Homo sapiens: one gene and its partners. The protein of the gene in region 2 purifies or fractionates together with the protein of the main gene of each other region. This does not show direct contact. Each region holds a gene or a part of one and is shown on either strand. Other genes may lie near its edges.

The links.
Region 1: the proteins of TNFRSF13B (region 2) and TNFRSF10B purify together in Homo sapiens (co-immunoprecipitation; 3 studies listed by BioGRID and IntAct, with this or other methods). This does not show direct contact.
Region 3: the proteins of TNFRSF13B (region 2) and ZNF579 purify together in Homo sapiens (co-immunoprecipitation; 3 studies listed by BioGRID and IntAct, with this or other methods). This does not show direct contact.
Region 4: the proteins of TNFRSF13B (region 2) and RBM26 purify together in Homo sapiens (co-immunoprecipitation; 3 studies listed by BioGRID and IntAct, with this or other methods). This does not show direct contact.

Annotation. Positions count from the first base shown.
Region 1 is NC_000008.11:23,065,790-23,073,597, forward strand, and holds the start of TNFRSF10B (tumor necrosis factor receptor superfamily member 10B isoform 1 precursor), read right to left. Parts: upstream 3,243-7,808; 5' UTR 3,106-3,242; coding exon 2,962-3,105; intron 2,632-2,961; exon of another isoform or gene 2,440-2,631; intron 1-2,439. UniProt on the Homo sapiens protein: Receptor for the cytotoxic ligand TNFSF10/TRAIL. The adapter molecule FADD recruits caspase-8 to the activated receptor.
Region 2 is NC_000017.11:16,968,891-16,976,895, forward strand, and holds the start of TNFRSF13B (tumor necrosis factor receptor superfamily member 13B), read right to left. Parts: upstream 3,229-8,005; 5' UTR 3,186-3,228; coding exon 3,125-3,185; intron 1-3,124. UniProt on the Homo sapiens protein: Receptor for TNFSF13/APRIL and TNFSF13B/TALL1/BAFF/BLYS that binds both ligands with similar high affinity. Mediates calcineurin-dependent activation of NF-AT, as well as activation of NF-kappa-B and AP-1.
Region 3 is NC_000019.10:55,577,849-55,585,706, forward strand, and holds the start of ZNF579 (zinc finger protein 579), read right to left. Parts: upstream 3,001-7,858; 5' UTR 2,947-3,000; intron 2,295-2,946; exon of another isoform or gene 1,794-2,294; 5' UTR 1,792-1,793; coding exon 103-1,791; 3' UTR 1-102. UniProt on the Homo sapiens protein: May be involved in transcriptional regulation.
Region 4 is NC_000013.11:79,319,035-79,326,990, forward strand, and holds part of RBM26 (RNA-binding protein 26), read right to left. Parts: intron 3,429-7,956; coding exon 3,315-3,428; intron 2,268-3,314; coding exon of another isoform or gene 2,169-2,267; exon of another isoform or gene 1,677-2,168; coding exon 1,587-1,676; 3' UTR 1-1,586. UniProt on the Homo sapiens protein: May be involved in the turnover of nuclear polyadenylated (pA+) RNA.

The DNA of each region.
Region 1 (7,808 bases), on a different chromosome or scaffold from region 2:
ACAATGTCAAGCAATAAGAAATTACTATGCATGAAAAAAAAAGTCCCTATGGGCAGGAAAAAAAATGTAATCAACAGAAACAGTGGCCGTAATAACAGATATAATGGTGTTGATAGATTAAATAACTTAAAACAGGTCATCTAAAGCTTACAAATATACTCAAGAATATTTAAAAAACAGAAAAACAAAAAACACCACCACCAAAATCATAGGTTGCGCACGGTGGCTCAGGCCTGTAATCCCAATACTTTGGGAGGACAAGGTGGGAGGATTCCTTGAGCGCAGGAGTTTGAGACCAGCCTGGGCAACATGGTGAAACCCCGTCTCTACTAAAAATACAAAAATTAGCCAGGTGTGGTTGCAAGTGCCTGTGGTCCCAGCTACTTGGGAGGCCGAGGTGGGAGGATCACTTGAGCCCAAGAGGTTGAGGCTGCAGTGAACTCTGACTGTGCCACTGCACTCCAGCCTGGGTGACAGAGTAAGACCCTGTCTCAAAAAAGAAAAACACAAAGATGACCAGGAAATAGATGGAAGATATTAAAAATGCCAAAAGAGAACTTCTAAAGTTCAAAAAATATATATCTGATATACAGTAGATGAGATTAACAGCAGGTTAGATTCTGCAGAAGCAGATCAATGAACTTGAAGAGCCCTCACAGGGAAATGTCCAAAGTGAAACATAGAAAATGATGGGGGAAAAAAAAGAACAGATACTAAGTTAGCTCTGATACAAAATCTAACATTCTAACGTAAATATAATAAGATCTCAGTCACCAGAAGAGACAGAGTATTTGAAGAAATAATGGCTGAAAATCTTCCAAGTAGAACATAAACTCGGCTGGGCGTGGTGGCTCACCCCTGTAATCCCAGCATTTTGGGAGGCTGAGGCGGGCAGATCACGAGCCAGACCATCCTGGCTAACACGGTGAAACCCCGTCTCTACTAAAAATACAAAAAGTTCGCTGGGCGTGGTGGTGCATGCCTGTAGTCCCAGCTACACGGGATGCTGAGGCAGGAGAATGGCGTGAACCCAGGAGGCAGAGGTTGCAGTGAGCTGAGATCCCACCACTGCACTCCAGCCTAGGCGACAGAGGCAAGACTCCATCTCAAAACAAACAAACAAACAAACAAAAACATAAACTCTAAAACCCCAAATCCAAGAAATTCAACATAACTCTGTTGTGGCTTTCTTTCTTTCTTTTTTTTGAGTTGGAGTCTTGCTCTTGTCTCCCAGGCTGGAGTGCAGTGGCGCCATCTCTGCTCACTGCAACTTCTGCCTCCCAGGTTCAAGTGATTCTCCTGCCTCAACCTCCCAAGTAGCTGGGATTGCAGGTGCCCACCACCACACCCAGCTAATTTTGTATTTTTAGTAGAGACGGGGTTTCACCATGTTGGTCAGGCTGGTCTCGAATCCCTGACCTCATGTGATCTGCCCGCCTCGGCCTCCCAAAGTGCTGGGATTACAGGCATGAGCTACCAGACCCGGCTGTTGTGGCTTTCTTTACAGAAAAGTCTCCAAGGAGAACATAAACTCTAAAACCCCAAATCCAAGAAATTCAACACAACCCAGTTGTGGCTTTCTTTACAGAAAAATCTTCCAAGTAGAAAGAACATGAAAGTCTAAAGCCAAAAATCCAAAAAATTCTTTATAGAGATAAAAAAAAAACCCCACAACAGAGCAAACAAACCAAATCACTGCAAACCAGTGCTAAGAAAAATCTTTAAAAGCAGCCAGAGACCAAAGATCCACCACCCAAAGAGAGGCAAGATGCCCTGGGGACCTAGGCCCACAGAAACCACAGCAGGAGGGGGAGGCAGAGGCCCCTGTACACTCTCCTCACTAGGACAGTTAGGTCCTCCCTCCACTCAGAGGTGAGACCAAGGACATACTGTGGTGTGGGGCGGAAACAGTGAAAACATGAGGTGTGTAACAATATCCCATGAAACTCCAATGCTTCACACTGACATTCTTCTAGGTCAACACCAGCATTCTCTTGACCTTCCTTTCACTGTTCCTCCTCTCCCTTCCAGCCCCTCTGTACAGTCTTGAGTTAGGTCTAGGCCCACACACTTCCCCACTCTGAGCTGCGGTCTCTTCCTCTGTAAAATGTGATGATTCAGAACCTCTCCTGGCCCCAAGCGCAGTTCCAGGCGCTGAGCACACCATGCTGTTCCCTACAAAGCCGACTCTTTGTCCCTTCCCCATTATCACGGATACTTGCCAAGAGGTGGCAAGAAAGGCTCTTCCCAGGCCAAAATGCAGCTGCTATTATCAAGCAGGTCAGGCCCCAAGTGCCACAACTCCCTTCTCCTAAATCTCGTTTTCCCAAGGAACCCCAAACAATGGCATTGGCGATGAGCGGCCCCGCACGCGTAGGGGCGCAGCCGCTAAGGAGGGGAAGGGGCCTCTCCAGCTGCGCCCGCGACGACTCCCGCGCACGGAACGGAACCACTGGGCCGCAGCGACCACAGGGGAGTTCTTCGCCGGCCGCAGGTTCAAAGCGATCTGCAATGAGCGCCTTTAGGAATTCATTCGAAGGCGCAAAAGAAAAAGAAATTAAGGCAGGAACTGAGCGAGGAAGGAAGGGAGGGAAAGAAAGGAAGAAAGAGAAAAAGAGAAAGAAACAGAAAGTAAGGAAAGAAAACAAAATCAAAGTCCGACGACCTCTCCGTGGCTTCACGCAGCTTACTCGGGAATTCCCTCCTTGTCGCCCTCCCCCACTGGATTCGGGAATTTACACCAAGTGGAGCGCGCGCTCTGTTCCCTGGCGGCCCAGGTCGCTCCTGCCCAACCCGGGGACCCATCTCTTCCCCCGACTCCGACGACTGGTGCGTCTTGCCCGGACATGCCCGGCCGCAGGCGACCCGGGCCACGCACCCCCGCCGTGTCCCCCTCTCTCCCTGCCCTCTCCAGGCGCCAGGCACGCTCTTCCCCAGCCAGGGACCGCGGCGGGGACTCACCAACAGCAGGACCGCGGCGACAACGAGCACAAGGGTCTTGGGGACCCGGGGCCCAGGCCTGGCTCCCCGCGCCTCCCTGGGTCCTGGGCCGTGCCTTTTCCGGGCCCCCGAAGCGGCCGGGGCGTTCTGTCCCCGTTGTTCCATGGCGGTAGGGAACGCTCTTATAGTCTCTCAGGCCCGTGGGTTTCAGCCCTTAAAGTAGATCGGGCATCGTCGGTGTATTTTGTGGGCGCAGAGATTGCGGGGTTCTCCGGCCGCGTGCTGATTTATGTGTCCAGGCTGACTTGGGGCGGCGCGGCTGTACTTTCACTGCCTCCGGGCAGGCGTCATTCGGGGCGGGGCGAATCAGATCCAATGTGCAACTGCAAATTCCACCACAGGTTGGTGACAATAAATAAGAGTCTCGTCAACGCAATCCTCCGCAAGCGCGTCCAAGTGGGGAGGGGAGGGGAAGGGACCGGAACTAACCTTCGCCCTGGCGGCTGCGCCCCGGGCTGTGGTTTGTTTCTGGGTCCTGTCCGCGCCAGGACAGGCACCGAAACTTGGGGGAAATGAGTTGAGGGAGGCACTTGGGGAGTTGACGCCTCCCGGGGTCGCGCGCTTGGCTGTGAACAGGGTCTTGAGGTTCAGAGTCCGCTTTCCAGGCGCGTCTTGATCTTCTCCCCTTCCCAGGGGCACCTGCCCCTTCTGTTCTCTCCTTCTCTCTTCTTTCCTTTTTTCTTTCGTTTTCTTTCGTTCTTTCGTCTTCTTTCCGTCCTTCCTGCTTTCTCTTTCCTTCCTTTCTCTCTTTCTCTTTCCTCCCTCCCTCCCCCTCCCCCTACCTCCCTTCCTTGTGGTTTATTTTTTGAGACAGTCTCTCTGTGGCTCAGATTGGTGAGCGGTGGTGTGATCCCGGCTCACTGCAACTTCCGTCTCCCAGGTTCAAGCGATACTCCCACCTCAGCCTCCCATGTAGCTGGGACTACAGGCCTGCACCACCACGCCTGGCTAATTTTTGTATTTTTAGTAGACACAGGGGTTCACTATGTTGGCCAAAAGACCATCGAACCCAGCTTACACTCACACCTAGTCCACAAATGTGCCTGTGTCCCTGCACCCTTGCTACACTTAGCTTTCATTTGTCACTAGTCTAGGAAATAAAACATGATACATCACATTGTTATGTATTTTCATTCCTTCATGGTACTGTGTCCGGAATTGGTGGGTTCTTGGTCTCACTGCCTTCAAGAATGAAGCCTCGGACCCTCGCGGTGAGTGTTACAGTTCTTAAAGGCGGCGTGTCTGGAGTTTGTTCCTTCTGATGTTCGGATGTGTTCGGAGTTTCTTCCTTCTGGTGGGTTCGTGGTCTCACTGGCTCAGGAGTGAAGCTGCAGACCTTCCCAGTGAGTGTTACAGCTCTTAAGGCAGTGGGTCTGGAGTTGTTCTTTCCTCCTGGTGGGCTCGTGGTCTCGCTGGCTTCAAGAGTGAAGCTGCAGACCTTCAAGGTGAGTGTTACAGCTCATAAAGGCAGTGTGGACCCAAAGAGTGAGCAGTAGCAAGATTTATTGCAGAGGGAAAGAAGGAAGCTTCCACAGTGTTACCACTGCTGGCTCTGGCAGCCTGCTTTTATTCTCTTATCTGGCCCCACCCACACCCTGCTGATTGGTAGAGCGGAGTGGTCTGTTTTGACAGGGCGCTGATTGGTGGTTTACAATCCCTGAGCTAGACACAAATGTTCTCCACTTCCCCACCAGATTAGCTAGATACAGAGTGTGGACACAAAGGTTCTCCAAGGCCCCACCAGACTAGCTAGATACAGAGTGTCAATTGGTGCATTCACAAACCCTGAGCTAGACACACGGTGCTGATTGGTGTGTTTACAAAACTTGAGCTAGATACACAGTGCCAATTGGTGTATTTACAATCCCTTAGCTAAACATAAAGGTTCTCCACGTCCCCACCAGACTCAGGAGCCCAGGTGTCGTCACCCAGTGGATCCCGCACCGGGGTTGCAGGTGGAGCTGCCTGCCAGTCCCGCGCCGTGCTCCCGCGCCGTGCGCCCGCACTCCTCAGCCCTTGGGTGGTCGATGGGACTGGGCGCCCTGGAGCAGGGGGAGGTGCTCGTCGGGGAGGCTCCGGCTGCACAGGAGCCCACGGAGGGGGTGAGAGGCTCAGGCATGGCGGTCCCGAGCCCTGCCCGTCGGGAAGGCAGCTAAGGCCCGGCGAGAAATCAAGCGCAGCGCCAGTGGGCCGGCACTGCTGGGGGACCCAGTACACCCTCCGCAGCCGCTGGCCCGGGTGCTAAACCCCTCATTGCCCGGGGCCGGCAGGGCCGGCCGGCTGCTCCGAGTGCAGGGCCCGCCGAGCCCACGCCCACCCGGAACTCCAGCTGGCCCGCAAGTGCCGCGCGCGCAGCCCCGGTTCCCGCTCGCGCCTCTCCCTCCACACCTCCGTGCAAGCTGAGGGAGCGGGCTCCAGCCTTGGCCAGCCCAGAAAAGGGCTCCCACAGTGCAGCGGTGGGCTGAAGGGCTCCTCAAGTGCCGCCAAAGTGGGAGCCCAGGCAGAGGAGGCGCCGAGAGCGAGCGAGGGCTGTTGAGGACTGCCAGCAAGCTGTCACCTCTCAGTACTACGGATTTTCAAGAATACAGGAGTTTTTGGTACTGGGAGTAGATGACTGGGGGGATCCAGGCAAGACTACAGGGGAGGGCGGCAGAGAAGACTTAATTCCCAGCTGTGTACTTGGAAAACCGTGCTCAGCTGGGGCCAGTCCCTGCCAACCGCCATGCCTGTTAATGGAAATAAGGTCTCCATCCTCAGGCTGTCAGGGTGACTTCAGATGAGCCTGGAGCTGAGCTCAGTTCCGGACCCCAGGTCCTGGCTCTGTCAATGCCGGACTGGTCCAATCTCTATGCCAGGTCCTTCCAACCCCATCCCTCTCTTTATCAAAGTAGGAATCAAGAAGATCCGAAGGCTCAGGCTCTCAGGTTGTTAGAGAGTACTGAAATTGGAGGCTGTGGATGGCTGGGCCCTGCCGTGCTCCCGGTCCAGCTCTGACTCTGGTATGGCCCCAGCTCCTTCCTGTAAAATGAGGGGATAAAAATCTTCAGCAGCCCTGTGTAAACTTCTGCAGGCTCTGTTAACAGGTCTAGGAGGACAAATTGCAGGGCTGGTGTCAGTCACTCTAGACTCTGGATCCCCAGGGCACATGTCCTCCACTCAGCAGAGGCTGCACCTTCTCCTACCTGTACCTCAGTACCAGCTCCCTGAGCTTGAGGCAGAAATTTCTGAAGACTGGGGTGGAGCGCCATGCGGAGGGGCCGTAGAGGAACAGACGAGCCAGAATTCAAATGAGGACGGTGATGGCACTGCAGGGCCACAGCCTGGTTTACCTGCCACTCTTCCAATTGTCTTTCTGTTGGGCACCCAGCCGGTGCCCCAGTTTGAAGAGTGAGCAGGAAAGGTCTCAATCCGTGTGGCCACAGATGGCTGTTCACAGCCTCTACTGAGAGACCACAGTCCCAGTTCCGGTTCTCTGTCCTGCATCCAGAAGTGGCAGGGCAGCGAGGCTCTAGCTTCCAGGTTGGGGATGGGGACAGTGGAGACAGTGCCATGCCCTGAGCCTGTGCTGTTGGGCAGCTGGTGTCCTGCTCCCAGCCAGAGACTGCACATCTTCATGTAGTGGATTTTCCTAACAACCTGGGGACATGAGAGTAGGTTGTTTTCCCTGTTTTACAAGTGGCAAAACTGAGATTCAGGAGCAGTGTCTCCAGCATTTTTGGCCTCACCTTCTGTATAATAGCAGCCATATTTGCACCTCTACAGGGCTAGAGTTCTCTGAGCAGCTGCTTCTCTATTCTCTGTCCTGCACTTGGCCTCTGGGAGCTCGTATGGTTCCTCAGCAGAGTCCACAGGGCCCTCCCTGTGCTACAGCCTGGAGCCTGTCAGGCGGTGAGCTGAAGCCACGACTGCACTCACCTCATGGGTTTGCGGGGAGAATGATTCACCCAGGAAGCAGACAGTGAGCCCTTTACTCTGGGAACACCTGTGCCTGGAGTCTGCTGAAGGCAGGGAGGACAAATGAACCCCATGTGAATCCTACTCCCTGGAGCCTACAGTGTGGTGGGAGAGGTGACACCAGGGGTCATATAACTAATAGGAGGTAGCATGAGGGAGGCCTGAGATCTCACCACCCTTGCCTCCCCCTCCTCCAGAGAGGCTGTGCTGGAGGGAGGCCATGCCATTGCAAGGCCATAGGATGTGGTATTGTTTGCCTGGAAGATGTGGTTTGATTACAGCCACCATTGAGGGTCATGGAGGCAAGCTAAGCTCCCTTTAAGGGTATTTTTTTTTTGGCTGGGCCTGAGAATTAAGTTGACATAAGACAGGTCCACAGGAGAAAAGCACACAAATTAATACAATGCAAGTTTTACATGGCACAGAAAAAGCAGTGAGAGTCAGTTACTTATATACTGAATTAGACCAAGTAACTTGGGAAGAAGCAAGTAAATATGTGGAGGCTAAAAAGATGAGTTATTCTATTCTTTTTTTTTTAATATCTGCTCCTTTAAGGAATAAAAAAGACAAGCTTACCTTTTAAAATATATTTTACATATGTATACAATCTAAATTTATTTTTCTCTCTTTATCCCTGAATACTTTATTATTTTTTTTTTAATTTTTTGGAGACAGAGTCTTGCTGTGTCGCCCAGTCTGGAGTGCAGTGGCATGATCTTAGCTCACTGCAAGCTCCGCCTCCTGGGTTCACGCCATTCTCCTGCCTCAGCCTCCCAAGTAGCTGGGACTACAGGTGCCCGCCACCACACCCGGCTAAATTTTGTATTTTTAGTAGAGACAGGGTTTCACCATGT
Region 2 (8,005 bases):
CAATAGGCATTTTCCCCAAAAAAACCATATAAATGGCTAAAGAAGCACATGAAAAGATGCTTAACATCATTTGTCACTAGGGAAATGCAAATCCAAACCACAGTGAGATACCACCTCACACCCCTTGGGATGGCTAGAATGAGAAAGACAGTCAATGACAAATGTCGGTGAAGATGTGGAGAAATTGGAACCCTCATGCATGAAGTGAATTATAAAATAGTGCAGCTGCTTTGGAAAGCATTTTGCAGTTCCTTAAAATGTTAAACATAGAATTTATCATATGACCCAGCAATTCCACTTGTAGGTATCTATCTACTTAAGAGAAATGAAGACATGTTCACCCAAAACTTGAATCCAAAAGTTCATAGAAGCTTTCTTAATAATCACAGTGACAAAAAAAGTAGAAACAACCCAAATGTCCATCCACCGATGACTGGAAAAGCCACATGACATATCCATAAAGTGGAATGTTACTTGGCCACAAAACTGAAGCAAGTACTGATACCTGCTACAACATGGACGGCCCTTGAAAACATTATGCCAAGTGGAAGCAGCTAGTCACAATACATCACATATGATTCCATTTATGGAAAATGTCCAAAACAGGCAAATCTATAGAGACAGAGAGTAGATTAGCCTGGGGCTAGGGAGGAATGAAGACTGACAAAGTTTCTTTTTGGGGTCATCAAAATCTTCCAAAATTAGCTTATGGTGATGGTTGCACAACTCTGTAAATATACTAAAAACACAGACTTGTATGCTTTACACAGGTGAATTTCATGGCATGTAAGTTATATGTAAATAAAGCTGCTTATTCTAGGGGAGGTGGGAACTGGGCAGATGGAGGACAAGGAGGAAGAAAAGACTTTCTATTATATATCTTTCAATACTTTCTGGGTTTCAAACCATCTGACTATACTATCTATTCAAAGGCAAATCTAAAATCAAAGGATCAAACAAAATTAAAGGCAGACCCGATTCTCCCCACTTTTGGGTTGGGGAGCAAAGAGGGAGAAAGCCACCACCCGCCGCATATCACCGTGAAGGGTTGGTTGAGTGGAAGGTGGGCAGGACGTTCTATGTGACAAGGGCAGCCTTGGAGATGTTCCAAGACCCATTCATTGCCTGGACCAAAGCCACCAAAAGCCACTGGACCTGACAGAGAGACAGTGCCTGACTGACCAGACAGCAGATGCCAAGCTGACCAGAGGGCCTGTCCCCGCCCCCTCCTCTACCACCATGTGGACCTACATAAAATCCCAGAACCATCATCAAGTGCCAAAGGAGGGCAGGAAAACCCCATGACTGACACCAGCCAGGCAGAATAGAAGCTTGAGAGAGAAGCTTCGTTGATGGAAAGGGAAGAAAGGGAACACCTCTCTGACACTAGCTGTGTGGGCTGGGCTCAGACTCTGGGCCGCCACAAATTTGGATGCAGGATGGAGACTCTCTCCTGCACCCCGAGACCAGAGAGCAGCCAAGGAGGGTGATTCTCAGAGCCCTCTGCTTGTGCCTCCTCACGGGCTTGGCCGGTTAACAGGTGCTGCACCAAGAAAGAGCTCTGTGGTCGGATTAGTTTGAAAAACACTGGGTTAAAGAAAGTCAAGGCAGTTTTTTAACCGCAGGGCTTCTCAGAGCCTTTCCTCATGACTCCCCAAGAGGGGGTCTGGTAGTTTCATCAAAGCACTTTTGTGTGTTTGAGGGATGTCTGGTAGGAAAGACAGTCTTCTTCATTTTACACTGAGGGGAAGCGGCTCAGCCAAGGTCCCAGAGTGGGCCAGTGGACAACCGGCCAGGGCTGATTCGGCAGCACCAGACAGCTTCTGCCACTGCCAGGTCACAGTTCTAGCTGGGTCCTGACTCGTGGCCCCAGAGCACTGGGCAATTTCATCCTGTGTTAAGGCAGCCTCTGGTCACTGCCTTGTCCAAGTCTCTCAGAAACTTTACATATTTGAGCCCCTGGCTGTGTAGATTCTGGGGACTTGGTGGCTGGACACAAAAAAGGACTGAAGAACAAATTTGCTCCCTGCCTGAGGTGTGGGACAGAGCAGCAGGCAGAGGCTGTGAATCTAGGCTGTGCCCCGGGTCCATCTGGCCATGGGTTCTGTCTGCACTAAAGGACCTGGGGCCCTTTCATAAAACCTTAGAAACCCACCCTGATGAAAATGCTATACGGGCCGGGTGCCGTGGCTCATGCCTGTAATCCCAATACTTTGGGAGGCTGAGGCAGGTGGATCACCTGAGGTCAGGAGTTTGAGATCAGCCTGGCCAACGTGGCGAAAGCCTATCTCTACTAAAAATACAAAAAATTAGCCGGGCGTGGTGGTGGGCACCTATAATCTCAGCCACTCGGGAGGCTGAGGCAGGAGAATGGCTTGAACCCGGGAGGCGGAGGTTGCAGAAAGCCGAGATCATGCCATTGCACTCCAACCTGGGTGACAGAGCAAGACTCTGTCTCAAAAAACAAAAACAAAAACAAAACAACAAAACAAAAAAAAAGAAAGCTATAGGATAAATATAAATATAAATATATAACAGAAAAAATGGGTGGAAACTGTTATAGATTAAAACATAGCCAAAAGTCTAATGTGGGACAGGCTGATTTGAACAAGTCAACTGAGAAAGACATTGGTGAGACAGTTGGTACAGTTTGAACCCTGGCGGGCTATGTGATGATGTTCAGGAATTGTTGTTTCAGCAGGGGTGAAGGTATGATGCTTAGTTTTTTGTTTTGTTTTTAGGGTTTGTGTTCTTAAGGAATAAATCCTGTGGTCTCCACAACTCAAACAATCTGGTATTTGAGATTAGCATTAAAATGGTCCAGCGGGCATGTAAGGGGGAAAATGGGGGCTGTGCAGGGGCCATGGTGACAAAGGGAATTCCTGCCGGTGTGGCCAACCCTGCAACCTCAGTGGCTTCTGTCACGGAAGGCAAGCCCCACATCCCAGAGGCATCCAGACTCGGGGCTCTCCATGTGCAGGAGCTTGGGGAGGCTGGGACTGCCCCAGTGTGTGGATCTGCTGTGGGCTTTGCACCTGCTGGACCTTGCAACCCCCACGGCACTCAGGCCCAACCCTCCTCACACCTCCCACCTGCCCTCCTGCCCTCCTGCCCGGCTACTCACAGCGCTCCTCCTGGTCCACACGGCTCCGGCCACCTCGCCTGCTCCGGCCCAGGCCACTCATTACTCAGGATGCTTATTACTAGTCTTAGATTTGATTAGTGCTTGGGCTGCACTTCCTGGGTTTTCCCCTCAACCTGTTGGATGTAAATCAGCCACACCCACTCCCGCCCCCATGCCTGTGCATTGGGTCTCAGGAGCCCAGGTGGGTGGCTGCGGCCCAGGCTCCTGGCGTCCCATGGGGTACACACAGAGCAGTGGAAGGCCTGCCGGGCCTTGCGATGAGGTATTGACTATGGGATGGCCCAGGCTCTTCTAGATCTGGCCTTGGCCATCCCTTGGTCCTCATCTCCTGCCCGCCGGCACACACCCCAAGCCAGGCCAGCTCTCCACCCTCCCAGCATCACTCAGGCCTTTCCCTCTTCCTGGGTATACTTATTCTATTCATTGCCTGGTCGGCTCCTCCTGCTCTTCCTTCAAGGCTCCATTGAGGTGTCACCTCCTCCAGGAAGCCATCCCTGACTGTCCCAGCCTGTCAGGTGGTACTCATTCTCTGTATCTCCTTGACCCTCTCCAACACCTAGCAGAGCACTGGAGAGGCTGAACCCCAGGACCGGACAGCCTGCGTTTGAATCTTGACTCTGCTGCATACTAGCAGAAGGCCTTGGTGGCAATTTATGGAACTCTTCTGTGCCTCCATGTTCTCTGTGTAAAACAAGGATGAGGTCGGGCATGGTGGCTCACGCCTGTAATCCTAGCACTTTGGGAGGCCGAGGCAGGTGGATTGTCTGAGCTCAGGAGTTCGAGACCATCCTGGGCAACACGGTGAAACCCCATCTCTACTAAAAAAAAATACAAAAAATTAGCCGGGTGTGGTGGCGCGTGCCTGTAGTCCCATCTATTTGGGAGGCTGTGGCAGGAGAATGAACCTGGGAGTCAGAGGTTGTAGTGAGCCGAGATCGTGCCATTGCACTCCAGCCTGGGCAACAGAGATGCCATCTCAAAAAAAAAAAAAAAAAAAAGGATGAGAACATTGCCCGCCTCACAGGCGGTTATGAGCATGAAATGAGGGAGGGAGCACAGTTACATTCTTAGAGCAGGTTCTTGGCACACAGTAAGTCCTCAATAAAGGCCGTGGAGGAGGAACATTACAGCCCGTATTGCACTGCATGGCGACTGCACTCCTGTGTCTTCCCCATCGTCTGAAACCTCCCAGGGGATGGGAGGCCCAGCAACAGCCAAAGGCGGAGTGAGAGGAACGTAAAAGCCAAAGAAAGCCCATGGGCCCTTAGGAAGAAACTGAAGGACGAGGAGGACATGGAGAGGTGGAGAGGAAGGAGGGAGGCTGCAGGAAGCAGCTGGAGCAGGGTGATGGTGCACAGAGCAGGAGAGGAGATGCAGACGGTCAGCAAACACAGGAAAATGTCCAGTCTCCCAAAAATCAGAAAAACAACTGAACAATGAAAAACTAACTTTCAGCCATCAGGTTGCAAAGTTTTAAAGTTGGTAACATCAAGGGCAGGGGGGTGATCTACAGAAGCATGAACTCAGGGCCCACTGGAGGGAGGGAGCTGGCAGCAGCGTTCTGGAGAGTAACCAGCCAGGGTCAGTTAAATGCACAACACACACCTAACCCACCCCCCAGAAATTCTCCTCCTCCGTGAGCCTCCTCATGACAGCGAGAAACGGGAAACAATGTAAATGTCCATGCAGCAGAGGATGCCTGAATAAGCAGGGTGCACAGGCCAGAGCCAGGAATCTATTGCACAGTTAAAAGAATGAGAAATCTCGAAGCTTTCAGGACAGACGCTGAGTAAATAAAAGTAGCTTATAGCATGAGCCTTACAGCATGATGCCTTTTAGTAAAACAAAACCAAAAGCAAACAACATGCACACACACACACACACAGTACAGCGCTGTGTTGTCTGTGATCACGCACACATGACTGTGAAGCATAAGAAGTCTGCAAAGACATGCATGACGAAACTGGCTCTCGCCGGGTGGGGCAAGAGGGAACCAGGACTGGGGGTGACCGTCAAAGGGGACTTTAGCCCTATTTGTAGGGCTAAACATTTTACATTTAGGGCTTTTACATTTGTAGGGGTTTTACATTTAATTACTTGTTTACATTTAATTACTTGTGTCAATGAACAGTGACAAAACCATAGCTGGGCTCTGGCAGTGGATTTCTAAGAGAGAGGTAAGAAAGAGATCCCATTGCCAGGAACTTTCTGCCTGTTGAAATGGGCAAGCCCAAAGTCACTACAGGATGCCCTCACTGAGTCCCCCCTCACCTCCTGTTTGCATACCCCCAGGGTCAGGGCTCTCACCACCTCACGGAGCAGCTGGCTCCCTGGGGGGTAGCTCTGATGGTTAGAAAGCTCAGCTCTAGCCTGGGCAACATAGCGACCCTGTCTCTATAATTTTTTTTTTTTTGAGACCGAGTCTCACTCTGTTGCCCAGGCTGGAGTGTGGTGGCGTGATCTCAGCTCACTACAACCTCCACCTCCTGGGTTCAAGCGATTCTCGTGCCTCAGCCTCCTGAGTAGCTGGGACTAGAGGAGTGAGCCACCACTCCCGGCTAATTTTTGTATTTTTATTGGAGACAGGGTTTCACCATGTTGTCCAGGCTGGTCTCGAACTCCTGACCTCAAGTGATCTACCCGTCTTGGCCTCCCAAAGTGCTGGGATTACAGGCGTTAGCCACTGCACCCAGCCTAATTTTTTTTTTAATTAGCTGGGTGTGGTGGTGTGCACCCGTAGTCCTAGCAACTTGGGAGGCTGGAGGATTGCAACACTGGGCTGGAGCTCAGGAGTTCAAGGCTACAGTGAGCTATGATCACACCACTGCACTCCAGCCTGGGCTACAGAATGAGAACCTGTCGCAAAAAAAGGAGGAGGAGGAAGAAGAAGGAGAAGGAGAAAGAGGAGAAGGAAGGAGAAGAAGGAAAGACAGCAAGTTCAGCTTTGTCCAGTGAGCAGACTGTGCTTCCAGACTGTGCTTCCATGGGACTGAATGCTGCTCTCTGCAGCCACACACATTGTCCTGGAGTTTTAAAGCCAATACCTGTTATGCCTGAAATGAAAAACAAACAAAATCCAGCCTGATTTGGGGAGTGGCTGAGAATTGAATGACAGAGTTCCCTAATGTCTTACTGCCAATCACAGCTTGTTAATGCTTTTGCTCAAATGCAGTTTACAGAGAATGGATTTAATTTGCTTTCTATTTTCTTTAATTAGATGGTGTAATTTACAGACAGTGAAATGCACCCTTTTAAAATGGGAAGTTCAGTAAGTGTTCTCATACATGCACACCCAGGCAACCACAACTCAGATCACAACTCAGAGCATGCACAGCCCCCAGAAGGTCCCTCACTGCCCCTTCCAGCCAGCACACCCCACTCCATCCCCAAGAGAGTCACAATTCTGACTCCTGCCACCACAGATTCATTTTGCTTGTTCCCCAAACTTTGTATAAATGGAAACATACAAATGGGATCGTTTCATGAAACACAAAAATAGATTCCCCCTCTGCACTGGCTCCCCCAGAAGATTGAACAGGTGCTGGAGGTTTCTAAAGCTCATTCTGAGACCAGCCTTTTTTTGAGCTGTCTCCCAAGAGGATGCGGGATTCTAATTTTAAGCTCCACAGCCAAGGTGACAGAAGAGATTTAGAACCCAGAGTAGAGATAACTCATATACCTTAAGGTTTTGGACCTGGTTCATTTATATATGTATAATTAGCGAGTTAAAATGCACACATAGTAAAGAAAAAAATTCAAGCAGTAAAAGAATATGGCGGAAGTAAATTTCTCTCCTGTCTGGTTATCCTAGGCCCATGATGTCCCTACTCAAAGGCGGCAACCCTTAGTGGACCTTGTTCATACAGCCTCCCAGCAAAGCCTAGGCATTTCTGAGCATGTGCGTGTCGCTAGAGGATATATTTCACCTCTCCCTCCCCCTCCATACCTTTTTTTTTTTTTTTTAACACAACTGCTGGCTTATACAGATCAAGGTTGCTGTTTAGCATGCCACCTTTTCCATTTAGTATAGCCTGCCGGACAGTTCTTAGCTTTTGAAATGAACTCCTACAGTGATCATTGGGAGTAACAACAGGGAAAACTTAGGGCACTGTTCTAAACACGTAACATCTGCTCATTTAATTCACATTTTACCGTCTTTGTCACCTTGAGGGGCATGAGCTCCTTAAGTTAAATTGTTTGAAGAAAGGCAACACTGGCCTGTTGATCAATATTTCCCAGGGAGATGGTTCCACTCTGCACTAGCATGTCCGTGGTATTTTGGCCCTAAAGACCCACATCCCTGCAGGTGCTGTGGTCTCTTTGAGCTCCCTCATGTCTGCCACCTACTCCTGGTCCCTTGAGGCCCTGCTGTTGAACCTCCTCTGAGACAGTTCTGGGTGTAAAACAAAAGGAAGAGTCTCCAAAAGAGGACATTTCTTAGACATGCAGCGAAAGCCCTCATTTTCATTATTGCCATTTACATAGATGACTCAGATGTGCTGAATTTCCTGTTGCTAATGTAGCTGTACATTTGTGCTAATTTCTCAGAAATGCTAGATACCATTATTTTAGCAAAACTCACTTTGAAAAAGCAAAGAGCAGGGTTTAAAATAATAATAATAAGGGTCCCCAGTGTTCTGTGGGAAGATCTAGTTTCTCTACTTTAAAATGTTTCCCTCCTAACTTTTTATTATGAAAACTTCAAAACTTCAAGAAAGTTAAAATTATAATGAAGACTCAGGGACCCTCCACCAAGATTCAGTAGCTCTTCACCTTGGTGTCTGCATGGCTCCATCCATCTCTGTCTCTTCCTGCCTGCCTTCTGGCTGAGACCCTGAAGGCAATTTGCAGACATCCCGA
Region 3 (7,858 bases), on a different chromosome or scaffold from region 2:
GGGACGGGTGGGTAGACAGAGGAGGTGGCTCCTTCAACTTCCCTCCTCCATTCTGCAAACCGGGGAGCTCAGGCGGAGCGGCGGAGGGCAGGGCGGCGAAGGTCAGGAGGCCAGGCCCCCCAGCCCGCGCAGGTGAGCCTTGCTGTCTACCTCTTCCTCCTCCATCTCGAAGGCTGAGTGGTCTTGGCTGTCGAAACAGGAGGCGCTGAGGAAGACAGGGGGAGCCGGCGGGGACTGGGGTGGGGTCCCCGGAGAGGGCGGCTCTTCCTTAATGTTTGCGAGGGGCAGCGGGAGCCCTTCTTCCTCCTGCTCGGCCTTCAGGGGCGGCGGGGGCGGTGGCGGCGACGTCGGGGCCTGGGCCTGCAGTGCCTGCAGCGCGGCGGCCCTCTCCAGCTCTGCGCGGTGGCAGCGCTGGTGGCGCAGGAGGCTGTAGGCGCGCGAGAAGCGGCGCGGGCAGCGGGGGCACGGGTGCGGGGCTGGGCCCCCCGCGTGCACCTGTGCGTGGCGCGCCAGGTCGGCCAGGCGCTTGAACTCCCGCTGGCAGCGCACGCACTGGAAGGGGCGCGCTCCCGAGTGGGTCACCCCGTGCTGCCGCAGGTGCGCCCGGCGCCTGAAACCTTTGCCGCACTCTGGGCACCAGAAGCGGGGCTCCCCGGCGGGGGGCCGAGCCGGGGCGGCGTCGCCTCCGTTCTGCCCTTCTCCCCCTTCCGAGGCACCCCCGCACTCCGCCCCCTCGCCCCCCTCCGGCCCCTTGGCTGAGTTCCGTGCACCCGAGGCCTTGTCGTCCTTCTTGCCCGCCGCGGGCAGCGGGGCCAGCAGGCTGAGGGGGCCGTGGACGCGGCGGTGCTGGCGGAGGTAGGAGGCGAGGCGGAAGGCCAGGCCGCAGTCTGGGCACACGAAAGGGCGGTCGGTGGAGTGGACCAGCCGGTGGCGCGACAGGGACCAGGGCCTGGCGAAGGCCTTGAGGCAGATGGAGCACTGGTGTCGCTTGGGGCGTGGCGGGGGCCCCCCTTCCCCTTCCTGTTCGCCCTCGGGGCGCAGACACGGGTGCGCCTTGAGCTCGCCCTTGGTGGCGAAGGCTTCGCGGCAGCGCAGACACAGCAGCGTCCAGTCTGCCTGGAGCAGGACCTGTTTCTCCTCCTGCCGCCCGGCCGCCAGCGCCAGCTCGGCCCTCAGCTCTGCTGCCCCGGCCTCGGCCTCCTCCGACTCCGACTCCCGGGGCTCCGCGGCGCTGGTGGGCGCAGCCAGCGTGGAAGGCTCCCCCGCAGGCCACGTCTCAGGCCACGCTGCGACCGCCTCCTCCTCCGTGGCCCCTGCTGCAGCGGTGGTGGGCGGCTCCGAGCCCTCGTCCTGCGGGCCCCAGCTGGGTTCGGCCGTCTCCTTGGCCACCCTCTCGATGGCCAGCTCGACCTCGCCGCCCGCGTGCTCCTGAGCCAGGTGGCGCCTGAGCTGGGCCGGTTCTGGGAAGGTGCGGGGGCAGGCGGCGCAGCGCAGCGGGGGCTGGGGCCCGTGGCCGCGCAGGTGGCGGGAAAGGTGGGCCGGCCGGCGGAAGGCCTTGGGGCACAGCGGGCAGGCGTGGGGCCGGAGCCCCGAGTGGCTCAGCCGGTGCCGGGAGAGGTAGTAGGGGAAACGGAAGAGGCGGCCGCAGGTGGGGCAGGGCAGGGGCGCCCTAGGGGCTCCAGCGCCCCCCCTGCCACGGCCACGGCCCCGACCACGGCCTCGGCCACGGCCCCGGCCTCGGCCACGGTGAGGTGGGCTGCCCTGGGCGGGTGGAGGAGGCTGCGGATCCATGCCTGTGGGGAGAGAGGGGAGAGATGGGAAGCGGGGCAGAGATAAAAAGAGGTGCGTGGGGTGTGGCAGAAAGAGAAGCAGAGACAGTCAGAGATGGAGAGGCAGAGAGGGTCAGGTATTTAGCCAGGAGAGAGATATGAGACAGAGACAAAGATGAGAGACACCGAGGGGAGGCCAGAGATGGAGAGACAGGAGGAGAGAGATCAGAGACAGAGCGACAGAGCAGGGAATAGAGACAGGAGAAGGCAGAGATGGGAGACACAGAGAAGTGGGGATGGACAGACAGAGACCAGGAGTCGCAGAAAGACAGGATGGTGAAAGGCAGAGCAGAGAAGAGACAGAGGAGAGTGAGGAACACCCAGCAGAGAGACAGAGACACAGAGAAGAGGAAACAAAGAGACTTGGAGAACCAGAGGCAGAGATAGTGCAAGAGCAGAGATCAGAAGAGCAGTGGCGGGTTGGGGGCCGGAGAGACAGGGAGACAGAGACACAGAGGGAGTGAACTGGGCAGAGGCACGGAGGGGGACAAAGTCAGCGAACCGCTTCTGCTCCAGGTCCCCCGGCCAGGCTGAACGTTTTGGGAGGGGCTGGGACACAGCCCATGGGGCCTGAGTGGAGGGGGTGGGATTTGAAGCCGGTAGGCCCCGGAAATAGAGTGTGTTCTCAGATGCCAGGGGCTGGGAGAGGTCGGGGAGTAGGAGGGTTCAGACTTCTGGTCTGAGTTGGGAGGGGGCTAGGGGCCCAGACTCTTGGGACTGATGGGGATGGGAGCTGGGGATTGAGACTCCTGGGTCCAGGTCATGACGGATTGGGGAATCTGGACTCTGGTATGGAGGAGGTGTGGATTCCTGGGTCCCGGTGGAGGAGGGGCTGGGGAGGGGGCTGGGCTCCCAGGACAAGGGGGAGGCGGGGGCTGGGGACCCAGCTGCCGGGAATCCCCAGGGAGGAGGCGACTGAGGGCCGGACCCCTGGACTCGGGAGGGAGGCTGGTGGGGGTCGGGGGTCCCAGGTCCTAGAGGGGGGCCGATCTCCTCCGGGCCAAGCCTGCAGCTCCCCGAAGGCATGATCAGCAGAATTGGGGCCGGGTCGAGGCCTTGAGGATTTCTCAGCCCTGGGCCTGGGGCTTGGTCCTGGTCGCTGGGGCTGGGTTCTTACCTCGCCTCCTTGGCTCCTTTCTTCCTTCCCCACGGCCGGCCAAACGCGGACGGTGGTGGCGGGGAGGGAGGGGGGCCTGAGCGTGGTGGGGGGTGGAGGAGGAGGCTGGGCTCGGTGTCACTGCCTAAGCCTTCCCCCCGGAAACCTGGCCTTTCCTCGGAGCCTGAAAGAGGAAAGACTGGCTGGGAAGCCGGAAGCGGGAGGACGGGGGACCTGGAGAGGGGAGGGAAGGCAGCTTGCACTACAGGGTCCTGTGAGGGGAGGGGGCTGGGGGCCTGTCCCCCGGGCTCCCAGAGGGCGGAGGGTGCTGAGGGCCTGGAACACTGGGTCCAGCTACTCCCGGCTCCCCAACATGCACACACACATATTCATTCATTCCTTCAACAAATACACATTTATCAGGTCCTGTCTGTGCCAGGCACTGTGTCAGGCCAGGGGAGTGGCCGGGGGAGGAAGATGAATGAATCAGTGACAGAGGCTTCAGGAAGTACTGGCACTCTGGATCAGAACCTGGCTCCAGCCTTCCCTTGGCTGTCTGGGTGAAGGATTCTCCCACTTCGAGCCTCGGTTTCCCCCTTTGTGAAAGCCCCTGCATATACTCATTCAACCCTAAGCGACCAATATTTACTGAATATCTACTACGGGCCAGCCTGCATATATTTGTCTACATATACGCATATTCACTGGGACCTTAGCAGCCAATGTTTACTGAGCACCTACTATGGGCTGGTGCTGTCCTTGGTGCTGGAGTCACAGTGGCAAAAACCGGAGCTCACTGTCTGATGGGGAAGGCAGATAGATACGGATCAATCACGCTGGAGTGCATGTGGGGGAACGTGTGCTCCGAGGCAGGGAACTGCTATGGGAATGCAGAGAACAGAAGGCACTGAGCTGAGCTCACACTGGGAGGAGGTGATTCCTGAGGTCTTCCTGGAGGCAGCAATGTTTCAGCTGAAATTGGCAGAATGAAACCAACCTGGCGACATCTCAGAAACCTATTCTGGAGCAGAAAAGGCATTTTGCAGGAGTATACCCACAGCTTGACGCTGTTTGTTTAAGGTTACATTCCTGCCAAACAGTGCTAATGAGAGTGCGAGCAAACAGGTCCTTTCATACACGGCTGGGGCAAGTAGAACCTGGAACATTCTTACCGAGCCAGCAATTCCAGGAATTTATTCTTCAGAGGCATCTACTCGGAACTGCACAAAATAATGTCTGCACCAGGTTAATCATTGCAGTACTGCACATCACTGCAAACAGCTGAAACCAATCTAAACACCCATCTGTAGGAGAGCTGAGTAATAAATCATGACTGATCCACCCAGTGGAATACTAGGTGTCCATAGAAAAGAACAAAGAAGCTCACCGTGTGCATATATGGTAAGTCTCCAAGTGATAACCTGTAGAAGAGAAAAATGGAAGGTCAAGTACAGCCTGCAGCCTGTTCTGGGTTTGTGTGTGTTCTGGGATTGTGTCCAGATGAACTGGAACAAGAGAGAAGAAACTGAAACTGGCAACATAGTCTAACTTCCAGGACAGAAATTTACTACACTCTATCCTTGTTTTTTTGTTTGTTTGTTTTTTTTTGTTTTGTTTTGTTTTCTTTTGAGATGAGATCTCCTTCTGTTGCCCAGGCTGGCTGGAGGAAGTGCAGTGGTGTGATCTCGGCTCACTGCAGCCTCGACCTCCCGGGCTCAAGCAATCCTCCCACCTCAGCCTCCTGAGTAGGTGGGGCTACAGGAGTGTGCCACCATGTCTGGCTAATTTTTGTATGTTTTGTAGAGATGGGGTCTCCCTATGTTGCCCAGGCTGGGCTTGAACTCCTGGGCTCAAGCAATCCACCTGCCTCGGCCTCCCAAAGTGCTGGAATTACAGACATTAGCCACTGTGCCCGGCTTTTTGTACTTTTTGAATTCAAAACCGTGTGAATGTGCTATATACTCAAAAAAGTAAAGGAGGCCAAGCATGGTGGCTCACGCCTGTAATCTCAGCACTTTGGGAGGCCCAGGTGGGCAGATCACCTGAGGCCAGGAGTTCAAGACCAGCCTGGCCCACATGGTGAAACCCCATCTCTACAAAAGGTACAAAAATTAGCCAGGCATAATGGCACATGCCTATAATCCCAGCTACTCAGGAGGCTGAGGCAGGAGAATGGCTTGAACCTGGGAGGCAGAGGTTGCAGTGCGCTGAGATCGTGCCATTGCACTCCAGCCTGGGCAACAGAGCAAAACTCCACCTCAAAAAAAAAAAAAAAAAAAAAAAGAAAAGAAAAAAGTAAAGGAAAAAGAAATACATGGGGATTATAAAAATAAATGAAATGAAAAATAATAGCTTACTCTTGTGAGCGTATTACAAATATGATCCCATTTACTCCTTGCTTTATGAAGTAGGTACCATTATTTTTCCCTTTTACAGAGGATGAAAGTGAGATACTAGAAGTTTCCAAACCTAGCGAGTCTCAGTAAGAAGTTTCACTTCACAAACAGATAGGAGAAATGATAGTGGATCAGAAGCATGATTTAAAAGAAATAATAAAAGGCCGGGCGTGGTGGCTCATGCCTGTAATCCCAGCACTTTGGGAGGCCGAGGGAGGCAGATCACTTGAGGTCAGGAGTTCAAGACCAGCCTGGCCAACACGGTGAAACCGTCTCTACTAAAAATACAAAAATTAGCTGGGCATGGTGGTGCGCGCCTGCAATCCCAGCTAGTCCGGAGGCTGAGGCAGGAGAATCGCTTGATCCTGGGAGGCGGAAGTTGCAGTGAGCCGAGATCGTGCCACTGTACTCCAGCCTGCGACAGGGCAAGACTCCGTCTCAAATAAATAAATAAATAAATAAATAAATAAATAAATAAATAAATAAAATAGGAATGGGGTCTCACTCTGTTGCCCAAGCTAGTCTTGAATTCCTGAGCTCAAGCAATCCTTCCACCTCAGCCTCCGAAAGTGCTGGGATTACAGGCATTAACTACCGTGCCCAGACTAGGAGCATGCTTTTTAAAAGCACCTTGTCCATAATACTATATTTTAAAGAATATATACCATGGAATAAAAGTCTAAAAATGTCTGTGGTAATAATAGGCACCAAATTCAAGATATAAGTTATGTTTGAGATAGGAGAGGCAATCAGATCTTGGAGGGGGTGGTCCGCGGGGAGTCATTTGTATCCCTAATATTTCAAAGCTGGTAGTCAGAATATGGGTGTGTGTATTTTAACATGTTTTTTGTAAAATACACTTAAACTTTATAATTGTAACCATTTTAAATCACACAGCTCAATGGCACTAAGTAAATGTTGCACAACTATCCACGCTGTCTAGTTCCAGAACTCTTTTTTTTTTTTTTTTTTTGAGACAGAGTTACACTCTTGTTGCCTAAGCTGGAGTGCAATGGCGTGATCTCGGCTCACCGCAATCTCCGCCTCCTGGGTTCAAGCGATTCTCCTGCCTCAGTCTCCCAAATAGTTGGGATTACAGGCATGTGCCACCATGCCCAGCTTATTTTGTATTTTTAGTAGAGACAGGGTTTCTCCATGTTGGTCAGGCTGGTCTCAAACTCCCGACCTCAGGTGATCCACCTGCCTTGGCCTCCCAAAGTGCTGGGATTACAGGCGTGAGTCTCTTTCTTTCTTTCTTTCTTTCTTTTTGTAGATATGGGGTTTTGCTTTGTTCCCTAGCCTCATCTGAACTCCTGGTCTCAAGCCATCCTCCCACCTGAGCCTCCTAAAGTGCTAGGATTACAGGCGTATGCCACCATGTCCAGCCTAGTTCCAGAACCTTTTCATCAGCCCAAACAAACCCTAAGCCCATTAGCAGTCATTCCCACACTCCCTTCTATCCCCAGCCCCTGTCAACTAATAATCAGTTTTCTGTCTCTATGAATTTGCCTATTCTGGACATTTCATATCAATGGAATAATCATACCATATGTGTTCCTTTGTGACTAGCTTCTTTCACTTTGCATAAAAGTTTCTCCTCCTCCTCCACAAAGGACATTGCCCCCCTCTTTTTAAAAAGTGAGACAGGGTCTTTCTCTGTCGCCCAGGCAGGAGTGCATTGGTGCAATCACGGCTCACTGCAACCTCCACCACCAGGGCTCAAGCGATTCTCCCACCTCAGCCTCCCAGATAGCTGAGACTACGGGCATGCACCACCACGCCTGGCTGATTTTTGTTTTTGGTAGAGATGGGATCTCGCCATGTTGCCCAGTGTGGTCTTGAACTCCTGGGCTCAGATGACCAGCCCACCTCGGCCTCCTGAAGCACTGGGATTACAGGCGTGAGCCACCTCACCTGGCCAGCATAATGTTTCTAAGCTTCATGCGTGCCATGGCATGAGTTGGTTCTTCACTCCTTTTTGTGGCTGAATAGTATTCCTCTGCGTGAGTGCAGTCATCCCTCGGTGTCCGCAGGGGATTGGTTCCAGGACTCTCCTCAGATTCCAAATCCCTGGGTGATCGAGTCCCTTACAGCCTCCTATCTGAGGGTGCAGAACCCACGGATGTGGAGGGCCGCTGTCACCTACATTTTGTTTATCCATTCATTTGTTGATGGATATTTGGGTTGCATCTATCTTTGGGCTATTGTGAATAGTGCTGTTATAAACATTGGTGTGTAAGTTTTTGTTTGAACAGCTGTTTTTAATTCTTTTGGGTATATACCAAGGATGTGTGTACTATTTTATCATCTATATTTTGAAGGCTTGAAAGATGGATGAGGAGGAGAAATAATAATGAATTCAGGAATGGAGGTGATAGAAAAGAAAACTTTAAGCAGAGAGCACAGCACATGGAAGGGGGTTTGCGCTCTGCTTCCCCAGCACATGGCGGGGGATGGGGTTGGGGGTCTTGCATTAGGGCATAAAGGAGGCCAGTGTGGCGGAGAGAGGCCAGAGCTGCACCCAGCGACCGTGCCGG
Region 4 (7,956 bases), on a different chromosome or scaffold from region 2:
TTGAAATTTTAAATATAAACGTAGACACGAATTGCAAGGCAAAGCATTTCTATGAAATAGTGTTACCATCAAGAAAATACACACAACTTCAACCCCAATTAGGGGTGTATGGGGAAGAAGAAAAAGAACAGCATCCTTAAGTTACTCCACTGGCAGAAGACTATGGTGGTGGTGGAACAACAGCTTTTGATTGTGAGGACCCCAATATGGAAGAAAGTAATTTTTTAAATGTGATTTTTTAATATTATCACTATAATCTCAAGAGAGGCAGAAACACTTGCAATCAAAATGATGAATTTGAAAATATAAATATGTAATCTCCCACCCCCATTCTACAAAGAATGCATTTATTTCCTGGAAACTGCCATATCAACTTTCAATGATCATGTTCACTTGCAAAAGAAATCCACTTAAAAAAATCACAGTATTGTTGCAAACATCAAAGATTTTTATACAAGTATAGGAAGTACACACTTAAAATATCAGACTGGAACACTTACCAAACAGTGTTTTCCTAAAGTAGTATCTATAGTACATTTCTTTATTCATATATCTTCAAATGGTCAAGTTTTCTTTCATACATCCAAAATGTAATGTGATGTTTTCTTATTCACCAAATGTTAGCTCTACTTGCAGTCTGGTTCCAAACTAATCAGCCTGCTTTTAAATTTTAAGACATTTGTTGAAAATTTATAGGATCAAACCAAACTCAAGTGGTATAATTTTTAAACATTGGATTGTACATTATTGTAAGGGTACCAGTAACCATTATTATTAAGAATAAGTTAGTGATTATAGCTCCTTTTGTGATAATTGGGGGGAAGGGTAGATCACCATCTGGAATGGTCTATTTTAATTTTTTTCTTTTCTTTTTTCTTTTCTTTTTTTTTTTAAATCAAGGAACATTGTCTTGGCTTTTTTTTTTTTTTTTTTTTTGTCATTGCTTTTCTCTTTTCTTTCCTTTTTTTTTTTTAAAGAGACCATTCCACTTTATTATAACATCTGGATGCATAAGGACTCATGTAAAGCAGTCATACACCATTATCATTAAAACCCATATGGTAAAATACATACACAGTCCAACAAAAGGCTAATACATAGTAAAGCCTAAGCATACTACTATGTAATATTATAATACATAACTTGGAGACTTTAGTTAGAGTACTATGTTATCTATTCAGTTTTGAAAACATTCATTAAGATTTTAAATGCAAATTCATTCCTTATTTGGAATAAAACAAAGTCCTCTAAGTTATAACAAGTATTGGTCATAAGTTTTCAGACCTATTCATTAAATTACAAAGAACCCAAAGAATTCTGTGATGTCCAGTAGAAGTATGTAATAAAAACATTGCATATGTTTCTAGTGTGATGTCTTTAGCAATTGTTTACTGAAGTAAAATGCAAACATCAATCTTTCAAAATACAAGATCAGAAGGTAGTTTTCTTCTTTTTTGTCTATTTGTGAAATCCATCTTCATCACATTTTACCAAAAATTGTTTTTACAAATATGTAAAAGTACATTAGATAATACTAATGAAACACAGGTAGAGTTCTAGCATATGCAGATCAATGATCAGTCAAATCATCTTCTCCAAGAACGAGATTCATTGTCCTCTTCTTCTTCATCATCATCTTGAAGTAATGAGTCATCCACCAAAGACTCTTCCTGAAACTTTAGGTTAAAATGTATTTAGGAATTTACCCAAAAAAAAAAAAAAGAAAAGAAAAAAAAGGTGACACTTTTAAATACTCATCTCTCTCAACAGAGTTGAATACAAAAGGTATTTTTATAGCTAGAACATTCACAAAACAAAGAAAAGCAACATTTAACCACTCAATGGTTTCTCTATATGATCTATTCTATTGCTTGCATGAAACACACTAAACAAATATCAAATAAAGCCTTTGTACATGCCATTTTTTCCTGCCTCTCTTTAGCAAATTACGCCATCTTCTGTACCTTTAAAATATTGGTCAAACTTTTTAAAAAAGAAAACAGTAAGTTTTCTCTAATTTACCCTCCTAACCTTGAATACTAAAATCAACCAATGACTTGTATAAAATTCTACCAAGATTTATATTTATATTTATTTTCTGCTGTATGCAACAAACATTTTCTATTATTGCATTCCTTTCTTTTCCCCATTCCCTTCATAAACACTTCTCAGACTGCTATTTCAAACTTTTCAAAATACCTAATACCAGGAGCTCTCCTGCTTTTCTCCCCATTCAATTCAAACTCATGGAAGGACAAAGGTATAATCTAAAATATAAAATGACAAATCATGTATATGAGTTTCAAAATATACATTTTTATTCTTGCATTTGACTATGGATATGTATAACAGCCTTGAAATGCTCTTCAAACAAAATGAAGTGCCATTATGAAGGTAAAACATGGAATTATTTAGTTTTCCCACCTTACCTTTATTTATTAACTTAAACTTTTTCCTAAAGTTTATTTTGTGATTAAGTAAGAGTTGCTTACTTTTAAGTTTTTGGTTTCAAAGGCCTCTAACACTTCACTGGCCCGTACCTCTTAGCCATCAGACTAACTGCTGTTACTCAAAGAAAAATGCACACTTTCATTTTTCCTGATGCTTATCCCTCCATCTAAAATACCTCTCAATTATATTACCAGCTCCAGTTCTAGCTTATGAAGCTGTTTTACTGCTTAGGGCCCAGTTCCACTATCAATACCTCCTTTAAAATTTTTGGGATGGAAACAATCACTCCTTCCTCTGAGTTTCCAGAGCATGTTGTTCAAATCTTTATTCAGCGTTATCAGTCTGCCTTTTATTGTAACTAGTTTCTTATGTGTCTGCCACCACCCCCCTTTTCAGATTATAAGCTCCTTGATGATAGATAGGGACCGTGTCTTATTCATTTTTGTGCCTATGACAGTATCTACCATATAACAGGCATTCATTCTAATGACTAAAATGATAAATGAATTAAAATAAAGGAAAGCTGAAATGTTAATAAAGCAACTGAGAATAGATTATCCTAAAACTTAAAATATTACAAGATTTCCTGTGGATAAAAATCTAATGAATAATCATTGTCTCTAAGGGTAAATAAAAATTGAGTATATATATATGATTTTCATATATTCTTTTTGAATTAGCAATCCACATTTCTTCTCATTATCCAGAAAATTTAAAGTTGTTTGCATTTATCTGATATCCCCTGCCTGGACTATGGGTCAGGAATAAAAGTTTTATGTTAAAATCACGGCCATAAAAATCACATTTTATATAAAAGCTATGAACGATTAAGGGTAAAAATAAGTGGAAAAAAAATAACATACTTCTTCTTCATCAGGCTCAACTTCTTCTGTTTCAACAGCTGAAATATTAGTTACTGGTTTATTCCATGCCAGTTTTAGATCTTGCCCTTTGAAACGAGCTCCATGAACTGCAGCCTAAAATGATTAAAAATATTGGAATATAAGACATTAAAAATTTCTGAAGAAAAAAATAAATGTCATAGTGCCTAACATTAAAATTAAAATAGCTAAAGACAACTGAAGATGGCTATCTGCCCATTTGCTTTTTGATTATTTACTATTCAATTTACTATTATTATAATTTACACTTTACTTTTTATGGTTATTTACTCCTACAATCAGACTAGTAATTGCAAATTCCTTTAAAAAGAAAACAAGAATAATTTCTCATAATAAAATATAGCTATTTCACTACTGGCCAATATTTGACTAAAAGAAATATGTCTACATGTTTATAACACAATGACAACTGCTGTTTAAGATGACAATCCCAAGGTACTTCAAGATCCTAGTTTTAATGTCTGAATCAATGTCTAAATTAGGATCAATATGCTAAATATATTTTATTTCAATTACTGTTCATTTACAAATGGTATATAATTATTAATCTTTAATAATAATTTTGCATGTGTAAAGTATATTATTTTCAAATTACATCAAATGACCAACTACCATAAAATGTTTATTATAAAACTAAAACAAAATATAAGTGTCTCAATGAAAGGAAAAAAAACCCCTCTGAACTCTTCTATTGAAAAACAGTTTTTCCTACCAAACTTTTATAACTGAATATAAAACGTGAACTTAAAAAATAGTCATGTCTAAGTACTTGCTATATTAAGTGGCTGGTTTGGAAACTGCATTCAAATTAGAGTAACATGAACTAAGGTAAATCAGTGTTAGCAACATATTGCCAAATAACTTATACTCACACAAGATTTATAATACAATCTCAAAGTACAGCATAATGTGAAATGTAGAAACAATTACATATTCAATGATATTTGACATAAGTTGTGTGGTATTAAAATCCCCAGGTATAAATTTTAAACCTGCACATATAAATTTATGATAAATTTAAAAGATTTCATGCCTGTTCAAATGCTGCTCAGAGAATTTTTGTCACAATGTCATACAACTAGAATTTTTTTAAAAAGTACTTATATGTATTTTAGTTCCAGGACAATTTGCAATTTTTTGAAGCTATCACTGTTACATAAAAATGTATCATATTCTATAAGGAATTCCAACTGTTTAATGCAAAATACCTACTCATAAAACTCATCCTTACATTCAGCTAAAAAAAATTCACCTAAAAAGCAAAAGAGTTACTGACATTTTCAAAAATAAGTTACTGACAAAAATTTCTGATGATCTAACTTTACACATCTCTATATTCAGCACACAGCTCCTCAAATCTATAAGATGAGGCTACAACTTTCTAAAGTTTCAACTTTAATTACAAAATGATTTACAAACTTTTTATTAACATTGCTCCATTACAAACTTGAGAATTAGGCTGTGTAAATTTTTGAAAGAACTGAGTTTTTGCTTTGTAAAGATGTAAATTTACTCAGGAAAACTAAGAACTTCTGATGTTATAAGAAACATATTCCATAATTACTTTCATTTTGATAAAACTATTGTTTTATATTAGAAAAGTTCAAGAAACCAATATTTCAGGTAATTGCAACATAAAATCTTTAAAGTTTAAACAATTCCTTCTGTAACCCACCCATTTCACTTTTTACAAAGATTCAAAATTTCAGGCCACGTAATGTAAAAAAGCAGTCCATGATTATCCCTAGCCCTAAGAGATAACCACTATTCTGTGAGGAATTCGGAGTTAAATCCTACATATATTTTTCTACACACATACTGAAAGAACTTCTGTATATAAATATGTATGGTATGTATACGGAAACATACTAGTTTATAACTTCATGGTTAAATTATTAACCCAATTCTTTTCATAAATATCTCTCGATGTCCATACCAATAAATGTCACTTTTCTTGAATGGCCATATATATTATATATTTAGCATAATTAAAGCAATTTCTACAGATATGAACAATCTTGTGTATTTGTACATCTTGTGTGACTTTCTATTAGAAGTGAAATGTTTGACTTTTTTCACAATCTGGCCTGCTTGTATTTTTCTAATTGAATGAAGTTTGGTGATATTTTGGGCAAAATATTTTCCCCGATTGGATTTTGATTTTATGATGCACCTTTTATTGGAGAGAAAGGGGTTGTTGTTGTTCTTTTGTTTTTGTCATCAACAAGTTTTAAATTTTTCATGTACTGGAATTTACCAATATTTTCCTTTATGAATATCGTGCCATACCTTAAAAAGCCCTCTCAATATTAAGACTATTTTTTTTAAATCCCTAGGATTTTACTATTTAAAAAAAAGAATTTTGTAGCATGTATTAAATGTTTTATGTATTAAAAAAAGAAAAAAAATTCATCCAATTTAATTTATTTGGATATTTAAAAAAGACATAATGCTGTCTTTTTTCCAAATAGCTAGTCAATTGCCCCAACATCATTTACTGAATAACTTGTTTTATTCCTTGATTTAAAACAACTCCTTTGTGATCCATTAAAATCCTCATAAAGTCAGCCACCACAGAACAATGTTTTGGTCAACAATGACTATATACAAAAGTGGTCCCCTAAGATTTTAATAAACCTGAAAAATTCCTATTGCTTAGTGACCTTATAACTATCATAATACATTACTCACATGGTGATACTGGTGTAAACAAACCGATTGTGCTGCCAGTCCAGTCATATAAAAGTATGGCACGCACAATTATGTACAGCATAATACTTGAATATGGTGGCAAACGACTGTTACTAGTTTACATATTTACTATACTATACTCTTTATCATTATTTTAGAGTGTACTCTAATTTTTTTTAAGTTAATTATAAAACAGCCTCAGGCAGTTTCCTCAGGAGGTATTTCAGAAGAAGGAACTGTTATCGTAGGCCTCAGCCTATAATACACACATTGCCTATGACAGCTGTGTGTGTGTTACTGCCCCTCAAGACTTTCCAGTGGGACAAGACGTAAAGGTAGAAAACGGTGATACTGATGATTCTGACCATGTTTAGACATAGACTAATGTATGTGTTTGTGTCTTAGTTTTTAATTAAAAGTTTAAAAAGTAAAACATAAAAAAATGTTAAAAATAGACAAAAGCTTATTGAATAAGGATATAAAGAAAGTATTTTTGTACAGCTGTGCAACGTGTCTGTTTTATGCTAAGTGGCGTTACAAGAGTCAAAAAGTTTTTAAAAATTGTAAAGTTTAAAAGTAAAAGCTAGAGCAAACTAAGGTTAATTTATTATTAAAGAAAGATAAAATGTTCTTATAAACTTAGTATAGCCTAAGTGTACAGTGTTTATAAGGTCTAAAGTACGAGTTTATAAAATACGATGGTAATGTTCTAGGCCTTTACATTCACTCACTAACTCACCCAGAGCAATTTCCAGTCCTGCAAATGCCATTCATGGTAGGTACCCCATACAGGTATACCATGTTTTATCTTTTATACCCTATTTTTACTGTACCTTTTCTATGTTTAGATATGTTTGCCTACACAAATACTTACCATTGTGTTACAAGTGCCTCAGTATTCAGTATAGTTAACACAATGCCAGAGTTTCGTAGCCTAAGACCAACGGGCTATATACCATAGAGTGTAGGTGTGTAGTAGGTTATATCATTTATGTTTGTGTAAATACACTCTGTGATGTGTACACAACAATGAAATTGTCTAACAACACATTTTTCAGGTCATATCCCTCTTAAGTGGCACATGATTGTATAAACTTAGGTCTATTTCTGAACTGTATTGTACTACATTATCTGCTTTGTACTGCTTTTAAACAGTACGAATAATTAATGCAAATAACTTTTTAAAGTATGCTATGGCAGTGCTTCAAGAGTTATGCATGTACTTTAAAATTCCATTAAAATATATTTTTAAAAGTGAACTGTATAGCCATTTATAAAATGTTAAGGAACACCATGTTTAAATGTGCTCTACAGGATGCCTACTTGGGCTAGGACGTAGTGGTCAAAAAGGTGAAAGTGGACCTAAATGTAAAAATCCACAAAATATGAAAGGGGGGGAAATAGTATCAGATGAAGATAAAATTTGCTTCCCAATGCAAATGTAGCTGATAATCTAGATTAAAAAGATAATTTTTGAAAAAACTACCAAAGTACCAAACTAAAGCCAGCAAAGATAAACTTAAACAAATCATTTCTACAAAACAGCCTGTAAAAAGACACATTTAATCATTAGATACTGATAGTTTCACAAATGAATTCTATTAAAATTTTAAAAAACATATTTCCAAAGCAACTTAAATTATCTCAGAAAGCAAAGAATAATGGAAACTTTCCAATGACAGGTAATAGAGATACCTGACAAAAATATCCCTCCCAAAATTTACAAACCAATCTTACTTTTGAAAATCATTTTAAAAAGTAAAAAGAGAAATAGAAAGAAAAAGAAGAGACTTTAGTGATTTTTAAAAATACAGTACTATGGGATTTAAACCAGAAGAGAATGATTAGAAGCAGTGCAATGAAATAAGGTGAAAAAGAAAAAAAAAAAGTCATTGTTATACAAACATCAAAA